Linked DNA regions of Homo sapiens. Changing the gene in region 3 together with the main gene of any one other region gives a genetic interaction. Each region holds a gene or a part of one and is shown on either strand. Other genes may lie near its edges.

Region 1 (3,500 bases), on a different chromosome or scaffold from region 3:
ACACACATATACATACATATCAGTATCAGGTCATTTTGGCTTCTGTAGACTTCAGTTTCCTCATTTGTAAAATGGTAGAATTGTATTATACCTCCAGTAAGGCAAATGGGATAGATTTCACCCAGCTTTCAAATTTTATGACTGAGAAACCTAGCAGCTATTTTCATGTGAGGAGAATAAAAACAGTCTTAACAGATAATGTAGAGCACTAGGGGGAAAAACACATGAAGAGGTAGTAGGGTGTAAAGACAAAAGTACTTGATTGGAAGTCCAGAGTTCTAGTTAGTTTCCATTCTATCCACTGACAGGCAATGAGAATTCGGCAAGTCACTTGCCATCAGTATCCTCATCTGAAACACAGGAATAGTATCTTCCCTGCCTGTTATGGAAACCAAATAATGTCATGTGAAAATGTGGCAAACTATGAAGTGCTAGACAAAGATCCACCAGTAGAGTTCATTGGTTAATAATGGAAAGCCGAGGCAAAGAATTTAAGCCTTTGTCAAGTTATGTGACCCTAAGACACAGTGTTATGCTGCTTTCTAAAAAACATTACACATACTTTGTAAACATAGGTAGGTCAGTAAGCTTCCAAATAATAGTGTGTTTGACTTCAGACTTCTGTGTCTCATCCCTTAAGTCACAGTCCACTTTTTTCTAGCCAATTTCGAATAGGATTCCTTCCAAAATCATTTTAAAGTTGGAAGGGACTGCATTCCTCTGTCATTTCATCTGATGAGGAAACTGAGGTACAGTGAGGTTTATGAGGATTATCTAAGGTCATATTGCTAGTGGCTAAGTTAAGAATCTGGGCCTCCTAATACTTAGCCCCAAACCCCTGACACTAGAACAAAGAGCAAAACAGGATTTAGATCAATTCCTTCTATTTTTCTGGAAATTTAAGTTCTAATTCCATACTAAAGAAACACTGGAAAACTCAGGAAAAACAAAACAAAACAAAAAAAACCCTAAAAGTCACTTGTAATCCCTGTTTTGCTATTAACATGTTTGGGTATATATCTTTTTTTTTTTTTTTTTTTTTTTCCTGAGACAGGATCTTGCTCTGTCGTCCAGGCTGGAGTGAAGTGGTGCAATCCTCACTCACTGCAGCCTCCAACTCCTGGGCTCAAGAAATCCTCTCACCTCAGATCTCCTGAGTAGCTGGGACTACAGGTATGCACCACCATGCCCAGCTAATATATATATATATATTTTTTTTTTTTGGTAGAGATGTAGTCCCACTATGTTGACCAGGCTGGTCTCAAACTCCTGGCCTCAAGTGATCCTCCCACTGAGCCTCCCAAAGTGTTAGGATTACAGGTGTGAGTCACTGTGCCCAGCTGGGTATACATCCTTTTTTCCTGAGTATTTTCAAAAAGTGGGATCATATTGAACATATTCTATAATCCTTTATGGAAAAAAACTGAGCAATTCCCATTAAACATTTTCCCACATAATCAATTTTGATATTTTTAATGGTTGCAATGAATGTGCTATAAATATCAAACATATCTCTAGTTATTTCTTTACAAAATAGTCTTATGAGAGGAACTACTAATAAATTTCACTCTTTTACACTGTTAGGTTTCTGGCCATTTACATTCCTGGTATTTAACAAGGTATTCAATTACCTGCATAACTAAGAAGATCATAGGATTTTTAAAGATATGATGGTTTGGGACAGCAATCAAGTTCTAATGGTGCTCACTTTTTAGGTCACCTTCATCACAGACTGCTCCAAAGGCAGAGCAATGTGGAACGAACCAGCACATTTACTTAAGATCAAAGTATGATACATCTCTTTGAGCGCCTCACTTCACAATAGGGATCCATTCATTGGCTTCCAGATGATGTTCACAGTTCATGTAACACTGATACTGACTTTGTTCCTTATGTTTAGACAGCTTCTCTGTCTATACTTCTCAGAAACACCATCAACCAGAACAGAGCCACTTATTATCCACAAAAGTTGCATCAACCAGCTTACCTTCTGGGAGGGATGGATGGTACCCAAATACTCAAACTGAATCCTATAGTGTGGAGCAACCAAACAGAAAACAGTCCAAGGATTCAGGAAATGGTAAAAACATTTTAAATCTAAATAGTAGTTATTTTCATTTTGTTCTGCTCCCACCCCCCAAAAGAACTGGAATTCTTTCCAGCATGACCAAAAAGGAAAGCTAGTAAAATATATCTAAAGGAACTGACCGTTGCATATTGATAATTAAAATTCTCCTGGTGATTTAGATATTTCAGAAACCTTATAGGCTTTCTCATTAATTCCAAAGATTATCAACTTATGTTTCACTGAAATTATATTACTGACCTTATTTAGAAAAAGCTACACAAATTACTAGTGTTTATTGTTACTTGCCATGCACGGTTAGGTTTTACATATATTTTATTCTGCACAATAATCTCATAAAGTAGGAATTTTGACCCCATTTTACAGAGGAAGAGTCTTGTCTAAGTCTACTCAGTTAATAAACGACAAGCAAAGACTCAAATCCAGTTTGACAGCTTAGACTATCAAACTCTAAACTCAAATTTTTACAACTATACTACACTATTATTTAAATAAATAAAAATCAGGTATAAGAAGCCCAGTAGACTCTGGCTTTCTATTCTTCAGTTCACCTTGCAGACGATCTAAAATTGCCTTTCATCATTCTTTACTAAAAAATGTTCACTGGTGCCTACCCATTGCCTTAGAAGTGTACATCCTTGAGCCAGCTTTTCTTCACCCCTCATGTCTCACTCAGTTTAAATGCTATTGCCTCAGAAAGAACCTCTTGACCTTATAATCTAAATTGGGTCTCCCTGTTTTTATTCTAAGTACCCTTCTTACTTTTTATGACTCTTTTCATAATCTGTATGTTGACTGATTAAAGTTCCATTAGGATAGGGACCATGTGTGGTTTGTTCATTAAACCACCCAGTTTTTAACCCTGTATACCCAGAGACCAGCATTGTGCCTGTCAAATGGAGGTACTCTTTTGCAGAATGTATGAATGGAATGAAAGAAATTAAATGAGAGTCAAGGATCTCCATAATCTGGCCCTACTGTACCTTCTCAGCCACACTTTGCTTGTTTAGGTCAATTCACTGCTCCCTGTGGAGGTCTCTGGCTCCCTCTGAGACTACAAATCCTACCCAGACTTTAATACTTGGCTTAAAACCCACCTCCACTAGCACCCCTATCCGAGACATAACCAGCCTCCTCTCCACTTCTATTAGACTCCCATAGCACTTGCTCATCATGCTCCTATCCAACTTTTACTATAAACTACTTTGGAGGGTTAATTTACTGTTCATGCAGTTAGTCTTAGGTCTCATCTACACCTGCACTATGCATCACAGTAGTCACTAGGCACATGGAGCCACTACGTACAAATCCATTTAAATTAAATAAAATTTAAAATGTGGTCCCTGTTCATATTAGGGACACTTCAATTGCTCAATAGCTACTATGGCTAGTGGCTACCATATGGAACAGCACA
Region 2 (3,500 bases), about 50 Mb from region 3:
TATACTGGCTTAGGGCAAGCCTAGTTAAAATGATGAAATAATTACTCTTGTTGAAGCAATACATATATCTTTTAACATATTTTCCAGTTACAAGGTAAATTACATTAATAAGTAAAAATGTAGTAAAGATTAAAATGGCAAGATGCTGTCCTGCTTTGTAAAAATTTTCAGTCAAGATTTGAGTTGAGTTTGGCTATATCAGGCAAATACTTAAAAGTTCATGAATAGTTATACATTATGGCTAACTTTATCCCAGCTCAATAGGGTAATATTGAAGGGGACTTCTGTGTATTATTTAATGCAACTTTTGACAAGTTTGAAATTACTTAAAAAAATAAATGAATAAAACAACTTCACTAAAGTAATAAGATCCTAATTCTAAAATGTAAGTAATTTAAAAGGTAAAAATGACACACTGCTTTTAAAAGGAGCTGGGAGGCACAAAAAAAATAAGTCAATAAACATGCTTTCCACTGAGTCATCACTTACCTTGCTCGTGCCCACCAAGATCAAAAGTTGTAAAGGTCATTCCAGCAATTGTTAGCTCTTCTGATGCTGAAAAATTGTTTAAAAAGAAGAAAAAAACTTGTCAACTCAACAACCCCCAACTACTAGTACTATAAGCCAATATCAATGCTTTCATCTTGTAAAGAAAAAGATACAAGAAGTTGAGTGTGGTGGTACCCGCCTGTAGTTCCAGCTACTCAGGAGGCTGAGGGCAGGAGGATAATCTGAGCCCAGGATTTTTGAGACCAGCCCAGGCAACGCCCCACTCCCAACAAAGAAAAGGAATACAAGGGTGAAATGTTCTTAAACTATTCTAAAAGCCAAAGGTTTCTTTTCTTCCAAGCTATTTTCCACTTCTTAGAAGTAGGTATAGGAGAGGTGTCCCTTTACAGGACCAGTGACAACAGATAATGACAAAGTTCCAGAGGTTTAGATCTGAAAGTACATAACCTGAGTGTGTCTTACAGGGAACTTTCTCGTATGAGTTGGCTTTTGGGACTTCAGTTAATAAAAGAACTCCACCAACTAGGGATTCATCCTCCACGCCTAACACTGACCTTTAAAGATCAAAAGGTCACCTGATATTTTCAAACCTACTCGGATGTAGTGTTGGAACATGTTGGCCCAATCTGTCATCTTTGAGCATGTGAAGAAGAGTGGTTTTGCCTGCATTATCCAAACCTAAGAATACAAGTTTTCCAGATTTCTTGTACAGTCCTAAAAGAGAAAAAAATTGTTAACACATTTGCTCTCTACAGACCAAAGCCTATTTGTAGTTAAATTACTGAGGGAAAGGCACAAACTTTGAAACCTGTATTTCAAGGAAATGGCTTTACCTAGGAACTGGAGCACACTGCTGAAGCCATTGTAGATCCACTCAAAGATGAAAGACATTATTAATGCTTACTACCTGTATAAAATATGAAAGTAGCAAACATTAGCTTTCTGAATGACAGTACAATTGTGGAGAGGTTAACTCTTGTTCCCTAGCCATGATGCACATTTATAGTCTCTTGTTTTCGGGAATAAGAAAGCAGGCCAGGCATGGTGGCTCACACCTGGAATCCCAGCATTTGGGAAAGCCAAGGCAGGCGGATCACTTGAGCCCAGGAGTTCACAACTGGCCTGGGCAAGAAAGCTGGACTCAATCTCTACAAATAACTAAAAAAATAGCTGGACATAATGACACACACCAAGAGTCCCAGCTACTCAGGAGGGTGAGACAGAAGAATTACTTGAACCCAGGGGTTTGAGGCTGCAGTGAGGCATGACGGTGCCACTGCACTCACTTGGGCAACAGAGGGAGACTCTGATAAAAAAGACAGGACAGGACAGGAGAAAGGAAAGGGAAGGGAAAGGGAAAGGGAAAGGGAAAAGGAAAGGGAAAGGGAAAGGGAAAGGGAAAGGAAAGGAAAGGAAAAGAAAAGAAAAGAGAGGGGAGGGGAGGCGGGGCAGGGGAGGAGGGGGAGGGGAGGAGGGGAAGGGGAGGAGGGGATGGAAGGGGAGGGGAGGAAGCAAAGTAAAGAGAAACTAATATTCTTTCTTGACACAGATTTTGCAATCTGGAGGAGAGTCTAGAATCCTTATATGTGCAAAAATAACTTGTTTCCTAATAGTTTTTGATCTATGATACTCAGAGAACTAGGAGTTAAAAATATAAAGGCATACCTCATTTGATGATACTTTGTGGATCCTGAGGTTTTCTGGTTTTTTTACAAATTGAAGGTTGGAAGCAGCCCTGAGTTGAGTAAGTGTATCAGTACCATCTTCTAACAGCATGTGCTCCCTTCATGTCTCTATGTTACATTTTGGTAATTCTCACACAATATTTCAAACTTTTTCATTATTCTTATATCTGTCATCATGATCTATGATCAGTGATCTTTGGTATTACTAGTATAATTGTTTTGTTGTGCCACAAACCACAACCATAGAAGACAGCAAACTTGACTTCCTCCACAGTCCTGCCCCCACCCCAAGCCTCCCTATTCTCCAAGTGAAAGTAACAGGTCTCTCCCTTGAAAGCAAAAGTTAGAAATGATTAAGCTTAGTGACGAAGACACATCAAAACCTGAGATAAGCCAGAAGCTAGGCCTCTTGCACTCAACAGTTACCCAAATTGCAAATGCAAAGGAAAAGTTCTTGAAGAAAATTAAAAGTGCTACTCCAGCAAACCCATGAACGTCAAGAAAATGAAACAGCCTTATTGCTGATAAAAAATAATAATAAAATAAAAACACGAGGTAAAAAAGCAAGTGCTGATGTAGAAGCTGCAGCAAGATAACTGATGAAGGTGGGTGGCTACACTAAACAACACATTTTCAATGTAGGCAAAACAGCCTTCTATTTGAAAAGCCATCTAGGACTTTCATAGCTAGAGGGGAGATGTCATTGCTTGGCTTCAAAGCTTCAAGGGGCAAGCTGACTCTCTTGTTATGGGCTAATGCAAGGTGACTTTACGTTGAGGCCAATATTCATTTACCATTCTGAAAATCCTAGGACCCATACTCATTTACCATTCTGAAAATCCTAGGACCCATACTCATTTACCATTTTGAAAATCCTAGGGCCCTGAAGAATGACACTAAATCAGTCCAAGTGGAGCAAGTGAGCGAGCAGAGTGGTTGTGTGGTTGCGTCTCGGAAACCAGTAGCACTTGCAGCATGGCTGACCAACTGACTGAGGAGCAGATTGTAGAATTCAAAGAAGTTTTTTCACTATTTGACAAAGATGGTGATGGAACTATAACAACAAAGAAACTAGGAACTGTAATGAGGTCTCAGGCAGAATCCCACAGAAGCAGAGTTACAGGACATGATTAATGAAGTAGATGCTGATGGTAATGGCACAATTGACTTCCCTGAATTTCTGACAATGATGGCAAGAAAAATGAAAGACACAGACAGTGAAGAAGAAATTAGAGAAACATTCTGTGTGTTTGATAAGGATGGCAATGGCTATATTAGTGGTGTAGAACTTCACCATGTGATGAC
Region 3 (3,500 bases):
GGCTTTGTAATTTAGAAGAGTAAGGTGTAGAGAACAATTTAACTTTTTTCTTACATAATCGTTTCTGTCTGTGCCATATATTGAATAATGTACCCTTTTGTCATTGGTTTGATATTTTTATCATATGCCAAATATTTTGCTGTTGTTTGACATTTTAATTAATATTTGTTTCCTAGGCTTTCTCATCTCTTCTGGTGATTTATTTGTCTATGATACTTCATTGATTTCAAGCCATTTATTTTCCACATTTTAACATATTTAAATTTGTAATGCATCTTAAAATCTGCTGTTGGGGCTGGTGCAGTGGCTCATACCTGTAATCCCAGCGCTGTGGGAGGATTACTTGAGCCCAGGAGTTTGAGACCAGCCTGGGCAACATAGTGAAACCTCGTCTCTTAAAAAAAAAAAAAAAAAAAATTTAAGTCAGCTGTTGCCTTAACGGAAGTTGAGTTCTTTCTGAGAAGCTGTGCATTCTCTTCTGCTGGTCACTGGGGGAGGGGCTTTACCAACTTGCCTCTGCTTAAGCTAATTTCTCTGCTTGGGATTTTTTAGGATGATGCTGGTAGTGTGATTTCAGCCCCCAAAATTTGCAGGGATGGGGTTGTCAGTTCAGATATTGGAGTTTTTGTTCCCTCTTTCCATTGTCAAGGAAGAGGTGCGCAGGCCTCTTTGCCATCCCTTCTGCATGTAGTTGCTTGCTTTTATCCCTCATTGAGACTATAGATGTTTAGTCCCCCACTTTTTGTGAGGGGTTCTCCTTTGAGACTCCCTTTCTGGGCATCTTTTTATGGTACATAACAGTGAAGTGTCACAATCAACAGTGTCTTAGATTTGGTGAAATATGGTGTTTTAATAATTGTAATTTTTTACATAATATCTGGCAGTAGAAGTTCTCAGTATACCATAGTCTTTGCAGTTATCCCGAATGAAGTTCGAAATAATTTAAGTTCCCCTGACGCTCTCTCCCCTAACAAAACAAAGCAAGACAAACAAAACCAAAAGAATAGTAATTCTAGGATTTTGCCATCACCTTATATGGAAAACTCAGAACCTTCTATTTCACATATGATTCGTTCACTATAATTGTTTTATTTACTTCTTCTTACACTTGGCTGTAAAATTTAGGCAAGAATTTAAGTTTCTAATACTATACTAATGTCATAAGATAATCCATTTAAAATGTTAACAATTATTCTATACATAGTTCATTCAAGCTTAGATCAGTTTTGCTGAATGGTTGTTTTATGTTCATGTCCTTTTAGACCTTTTTAGGATTGTTCTTTGAAAAGCCTCAAATTGGCCAGGTGTGGTGGCTTACACCTGTAATCTTAGCACTTTGGAGGCTGAGGCAGGCAGATCGCTTGAGCTCAGGAGTTCGAGACCAGCTTAGCAACATAGACAAGACATTACTTGTCTCTACTAAAAGTAAAAAAAAAAAAATCACTGGGGCATGATGGTGTGCACCTGTAGTCCCAGCAACTTGGGAGGCTGAGGTGGGAGGATTGCTGGAGTTCGGGAGATTGAGGCTGCAGTGAGCTGTGATCGTACCACTGCACTCCAGCCTGGATTATAGAGTGAGACCCTGTCTCAAAAATAAATAATTAAATAAAAAATAAAAAAGCCTCAAATTAACATGGCAGATAACTAACTTTATTTTTTATTAATATTTTAGCTGGTCACGGTGGCTCATGCCTGTAATCCCAGCACTTTGGGAGGCCAAGGCGGATCACAAGGTCAGGAGTTCGAGACCAGCCTGGCCAAATAGTGAAATCTTGTCTCTACTAAAAATACAAAAATTAGCCGGGCGTGGTAGCACACACCTGTAGTCCCAGCTACTTGGGAGGCTGAGGCAGGAGAATCTTTTGAACCTGGGAGACTGAGGGTGCAGTGAGCTGAGATCGTGCCATTGCACTCCTGCCTGGGCGACAGGGCGAGACTCTGTCTCAAAGAAAAAAAATAAAATAAAATATTTTAATTTTTTGAGAAGGGGTCTCACTCTGTCACCCAGCTTGTGTGAGTGCAGTGGCGCAATCTTGGCTCACTGCAACCTCTGACTCCCAGGCTCAAGCGATCCTCCTAACTTAGCATCTCGAGAGGCTGGGACCACAGGTGTGCACCACCACGTCTGGCTAATTTTTTTATTTTTTGGTAGAGACAGGGTTCCCCCAAGTTGCCCAGGCTGGTCTCGAACTTCTGAGCTGAGATGATCCACTTGCCTCGGCCTCCCACAGTGCTGGGATTACAGGCGTGAGCCACAACACTTGGCCATAACTAACTTTAAATTGTGTCTTTTACTCTCTGTACTGGCTTTGCTATGAAGAAATCATGCTGGTTAATCTTACTGAGTGTTTCCTGGGCATTCTTGTCCCTTTGGAAGGCCTGAGGACTTGCTTACAGGCTGTGCTCTTTGGAGGCGGTTTGCAGTGTTTGTCAGTAAAGTTGAGCACTGGATTGTCCATTTTTTTTTTTTTTTTTTGAGATGGAGTCTCACCCTGTCCCCAAGGCTGGAGTGCAGTGGCGTCATCTTGGCTCACTGCAAGCTCCGCCTCCCGTGTTCACACCATTCTCCTGCCTCAGCCTCCAGAGTAGCTGGGATTACAGGCACCCGCCACCATGCCCAGCTAATTTTTTGTATTTTCAGTAGAGATGGGGTTTCACCATGTTAGTCAGGATGGTCTCGATTTCCTGACCTTGTGATCTGCCCACCTCGGCCTCCCAAAGTGCTGAGATTACAGGCGTGAGACACCGTGCCTGGCCGATTGTCTGTTCTTTTACTTCAGAAAAGACAACGATGCATGGTATTTGACTGTAAATTTGTAAAGTTCACTGAGGTTTTTTTTTTTTTTCCTTTTTAAGACTTTCTTGTCTGCACAGAAAGTCCCAGTACAACTTCCATTGCTGAGAAAATCCTCAGAGGACTTTCCCACTTCGCTCCTGTGATGGATGACAGAAGAGTGATTCATTAACAATTGCTCAGCCACAATTCTCGGATATAGGGATTCAAAAGACAGGACACAGAACTAACACAGTGAAAAAAATCAGTACCACATTTGGACAGTATAGGTGAGAAAACATAATTATAAAAATGATGCCATGAAAAATTCCACAGATCAGTTTAGTTGTATAGTTGTCAAAGTTATATGTGATATCAATGAAGAAATATTTGTAGCATGTAAACGGTTATTTCTGTTTCTTAAAAAGTATTGTTAGTGGGCTATTAAACTTGGATTTTTCTTTTTATTAATGCAGTATGTTCTTTTTATTCAAGTATGAACTTGTTGAGAAACTATAGTAATATGATTTTTAAGAGATTTATGTTCTACTTAAAATGTGAATTGTACTTCTGAGCTGCCTTAATGCAAGGTCATTTATATTTGTTAAGAGGAAATAATCAAGATCACTCATATCCCAACTGAATCTGAGGTTTTATAAATCCCTCAAACGATTGCTGAGAGCCTGATTGTGGAAAGAAGTGAGATGCACCTTATTTTCAAGAAGTC
Region 4 (3,500 bases), on a different chromosome or scaffold from region 3:
TTTTACAGTGTCACATTAGGCCAAGAAGCAGCTAATGTCTACCACAGGGTTTCATAAATATGTATATAATTTCCTGCTTAGAAGTACGTTTCAAATGCTAAACACTAGATTTAGTTAGGATCTATACTCAGATCCCAGCACTTTGGGAGGCCAAGGCTTTGAGACCAGCATGGGTAAGCCAGTCGGGGCAGGATGACAAAACCCCATCTCTGCAAAATAAAAAAATGAAGTAAATTAGCTGGGTGTAGTCGTGCGCCACGGCCTCTAGTCCTAGCTACAGGCTGGAGCCCCAGCTGAGGCTCCTGCCTCAGCCTCCTGAGCCCAGGAGTTTGAGGCCTCAGGGAGCTGTGATTGCGCCACTGTTCTCCAGCGTGGGTGACAGAACAAAACTCCATCTCTTAAAAAAAAAAAAAGTTTTCCTTTGAAAGGGTTGATTAAACTTGTCCGTCTGGCATGGCATTTGAGAAATTCAAAGCTATTGTCCTTTCTGATAAGTTCTAAAATTGGAAGGAGTTGCTATAAACAAATGATTGAAGAACATGTGGCAGCTGAACAAGAGTGAGTGAATGTCTCCTTTGTTCGGGCTAGCAACGATTTATTTATTTGCCTGTTTCTTCTACGTGGAAAAAAATCACAAAGGGCATTTTTCTGTTATTCCCCCATTCCCCCTATTTTTCTGCATTTGTGCCTCTTGTGTGGCCACCAGCAAAGGCTGTCAGATGTGGGACACAGCAGTCAGTCTCTCCAGTGATTCTTCCATTGGAACATTGTGTAGAGAAGCTGAACTCGATTCCCGCAGGGGAGCCGAAGCACCAGCCAGCAGGCCCTGCCCTCCCCATGGCCCAGCGGCTGCAGTGCCAGGCTCATGGCCTGGCTCCTGCTTCCTGCCTAGTGTCCCCTGTCTCTGTCCACTCTCCCCCCGGTCCTGGTATCTTGCCTGCCTTCTGTCTTCCCTGCAGCAGGATTCTCAGAGGCCTCAGCTCACTCCTGCCTCTCATTGCTGTCTTGGAGTGAGGGGGAGCCACCTGACTGCTGACTGTTCTTAACCCAAAAGCCCGTGGCCTGAAGCTGAAAAATCCAGAGAAGGTTTTGAATATTTGAGCAGCACCAGCACAGTCAAGTTTTCTTTACAGTCTCTTCTTAAGCCTCATTATGTGATTCTCTTCTACTACTAATGGGCAGGCAAATTTTGTGACCCTCAGAGACGTAGTCATGATCATAATCCCTGACTTGCTGAACCAAGATGGGTATAAGACTCCTTGACTCACAGGATTCTTTTTTCCCCAGCAAGGTTCTCCTTCAACCCTGTAGTCCACATCATTGAGATGAAAAGTTAGGGCAGAAGGGAATGGAAGTAGAAGGAATTCATGGAGATCCCAAAGGAGCAAATCTTTCATAGTAAAAGAAATAGAGCCCCTTTCACCCCATTGCGGGCCCTGAGATGCTGTCTTCCGGTTGGCAGCGGTGCTGAGCCACGATCTCTTTTCCTTTAGATAGCCTTCTGGCAGGCATTCCTCAGAGAGTCAAGTTCACTGTCACTACCGGCCATTATACGATAAAGAATGGAGACAGCCTGCAGCTTAGCAATGCCGAAGCCATGCTCATCCTGTGCCAGGCGGAGAGCAGGGCTGTGGTCTACTCCAACACGAGAGGTGAGGTGCCGCCCACCCAGGCCCAAGGAGGATGCCCACCTTGCCCTGCACTGTGTGGGTGTGAGGGTGAGCCTGGCCTTGCTGCCATCCTGCTGAGCGCCCCTCAACAGTGTCTGGAGTCCGTGTTCCATAGGAGCCCTGCGGCCTGATGCCTGTGCTGGGGTCCCATCTGAGGTGATAAACTGAGAGTGGTTCACACGCTGAGTGGCCGAGCAGTGCTTGTCTGGCTGAGGATTAGGAGATGGGGGTCACGGCTGGGGTCACGTTCCATGGTGATGCCTGCCAGACCCTGTCCCCCTTGGGCTGGCCCTGCTCCCGAGAAGCAAAAGCAGAGCAGCCCTTGCAGGTGCTGTTGAGAGCCCTGAGCACTCCCATCCTCCCAGCCACGAGGAAGGGGAAGGGGAGGACCCTGCTCCCCTGGGGTGGGGGTGGATCTGCGGATGAGCTGGAACGGGAGAAAGTCATGCAGGGACCTACACAGGACTTGGGTGGGCCCCGTGGGAAATGCCCTTTTCCTCTCTTCAGATTGAGATCAATGATGGGTCTGGGCGCCTGCCTGCCGGCTTTCACACAGGGCTGCTCTGTCCTAGGGGCCTTGTTCTTGGGTTTGCCTGCCAGGTGCGCAGGAGCGGGAGAGGTTGAGCAGTGGCCTCACTGCTGGGCCATCACCTGCTGTAAGGAAAAGGACAAGTGAAACCGAGGGAACAGCTTTGAAGTGACTTTTTCTGTCCTTCGTAGAACAGTCTTCTGAGGCCGCGCTCCGGATTCAGTCCTCCGACAAGGTCACGAGCATCAGTCTGCCTGTTGCGCCTGCGTACCACGTGATCGAATTTGAACTGGAAGTTCTCTCTTTACCTTCAGCCCCAGCACTCGGAGGGGAGAGTGACATGCTGGGGATGGCAGAGCCCCACAGGAAGCATAAGGACAAACAGAGAACTGGCCGCTGCATGGTTACCACAGACCACAAAGTGAGTAGGGACAGTGGAGGAGCTTAGCTTGTGGGGCGTCCGCCGCCCGCCTGCCTGCTGGGAAAGGCGATGTAGCGATGCCTGCTGTTAGCCTGGCTCCTTCTGATTCCCGATGCCCTGGGCATGTGTTTAGCAGTTCTGTCTGTCTGTGAATCACCCTTTCTTAGATAAGGGGTGCATTTTTTGCAAGGGCAGAGACAAGCCAGCTCTACCTTTCCCTCTCAGTTCCAGGGGCCAGGGAGTTTGCTGTAAGAGGTTAGGGCCGGCTTAGGCATGAGGGGCGTAAAACTTGGGTCATGTCCATTAGACCGGTGACGAGGCCAGAGGAGGTCTGTGTCGTGTGTGCCTCGGTGTCTGTCCACTGAAACTCATAAGCTCAGCCACGGAGGAGCTGTCTCATTTTAGGCTTTGGTGCTGGTACTTACTGACAGTTACTTGAGAAAGATGTGATTTCGGTCCCAGAGCCACAGGATATCAGCTCATGGAATGTGTCGCTGCATCATGTTACTCAGGGTGTGCCCAAGTCTCGTAGCCCAGAAATCAATCCTGAGGGCCCTGAAACAGCCCAGGGGCCGCAGTATACGCCCAAGAGCAGCGGGGGCAAAGGGCAAGGCATGCCGTCTTTCCAAAGCACGGAGTCACCAGACAAGTCCACGCCTGAAGACGAATGTTGTAATGTTCAGCTTTTGAAGAACCTGAGGAAGTGTCTTTCCCTTAACTCACACAGACGTTCACCATTCACGAAGGTGGCGCTTAGCTCAGCAGGAGCGCGCAGCACTGGTGGCACCTGTGCTATGTGCCGTGTTATCCCGCTCTTCCCTGGCGCTGGTGGCACCTGTGCTGTGTGCCGTGTTATCCCACTCTTCCCTGGCGCTGGCGG

The links. A genetic interaction does not mean that the proteins touch.
Region 1: changes in SEC23IP (region 3) and PTAR1 are lethal when combined (synthetic lethality), as found in Homo sapiens cells (one study listed by BioGRID).
Region 2: changes in SEC23IP (region 3) and SAR1A together harm fitness less than expected from each alone (positive genetic interaction), as found in Homo sapiens cells (one large-scale study listed by BioGRID).
Region 4: changes in SEC23IP (region 3) and TRAPPC10 together harm fitness less than expected from each alone (positive genetic interaction), as found in Homo sapiens cells (one large-scale study listed by BioGRID).

Annotation. Positions count from the first base shown.
Region 1 is NC_000009.12:69,753,512-69,757,011, forward strand, and holds part of PTAR1 (protein prenyltransferase alpha subunit repeat-containing protein 1), read right to left. Parts: intron 1-3,500.
Region 2 is NC_000010.11:70,160,515-70,164,014, forward strand, and holds part of SAR1A (small COPII coat GTPase SAR1A), read right to left. Parts: intron 2,246-3,500; exon of another isoform or gene 2,176-2,245; intron 1,418-2,175; 5' UTR 1,402-1,417; coding exon 1,344-1,401; intron 1,225-1,343; coding exon 1,105-1,224; intron 556-1,104; coding exon 490-555; intron 1-489. UniProt on the Homo sapiens protein: Small GTPase that cycles between an active GTP-bound and an inactive GDP-bound state and mainly functions in vesicle-mediated endoplasmic reticulum (ER) to Golgi transport.
Region 3 is NC_000010.11:119,937,730-119,941,229, forward strand, and holds part of SEC23IP (SEC23-interacting protein), read left to right. Parts: intron 1-2,856; 3' UTR 2,857-3,500. UniProt on the Homo sapiens protein: Plays a role in the organization of endoplasmic reticulum exit sites. Specifically binds to phosphatidylinositol 3-phosphate (PI(3)P), phosphatidylinositol 4-phosphate (PI(4)P) and phosphatidylinositol 5-phosphate (PI(5)P).
Region 4 is NC_000021.9:44,085,309-44,088,808, forward strand, and holds part of TRAPPC10 (trafficking protein particle complex subunit 10), read left to right. Parts: intron 1-1,493; coding exon 1,494-1,652; intron 1,653-2,390; coding exon 2,391-2,620; intron 2,621-3,500. UniProt on the Homo sapiens protein: Specific subunit of the TRAPP (transport protein particle) II complex, a highly conserved vesicle tethering complex that functions in late Golgi trafficking as a membrane tether.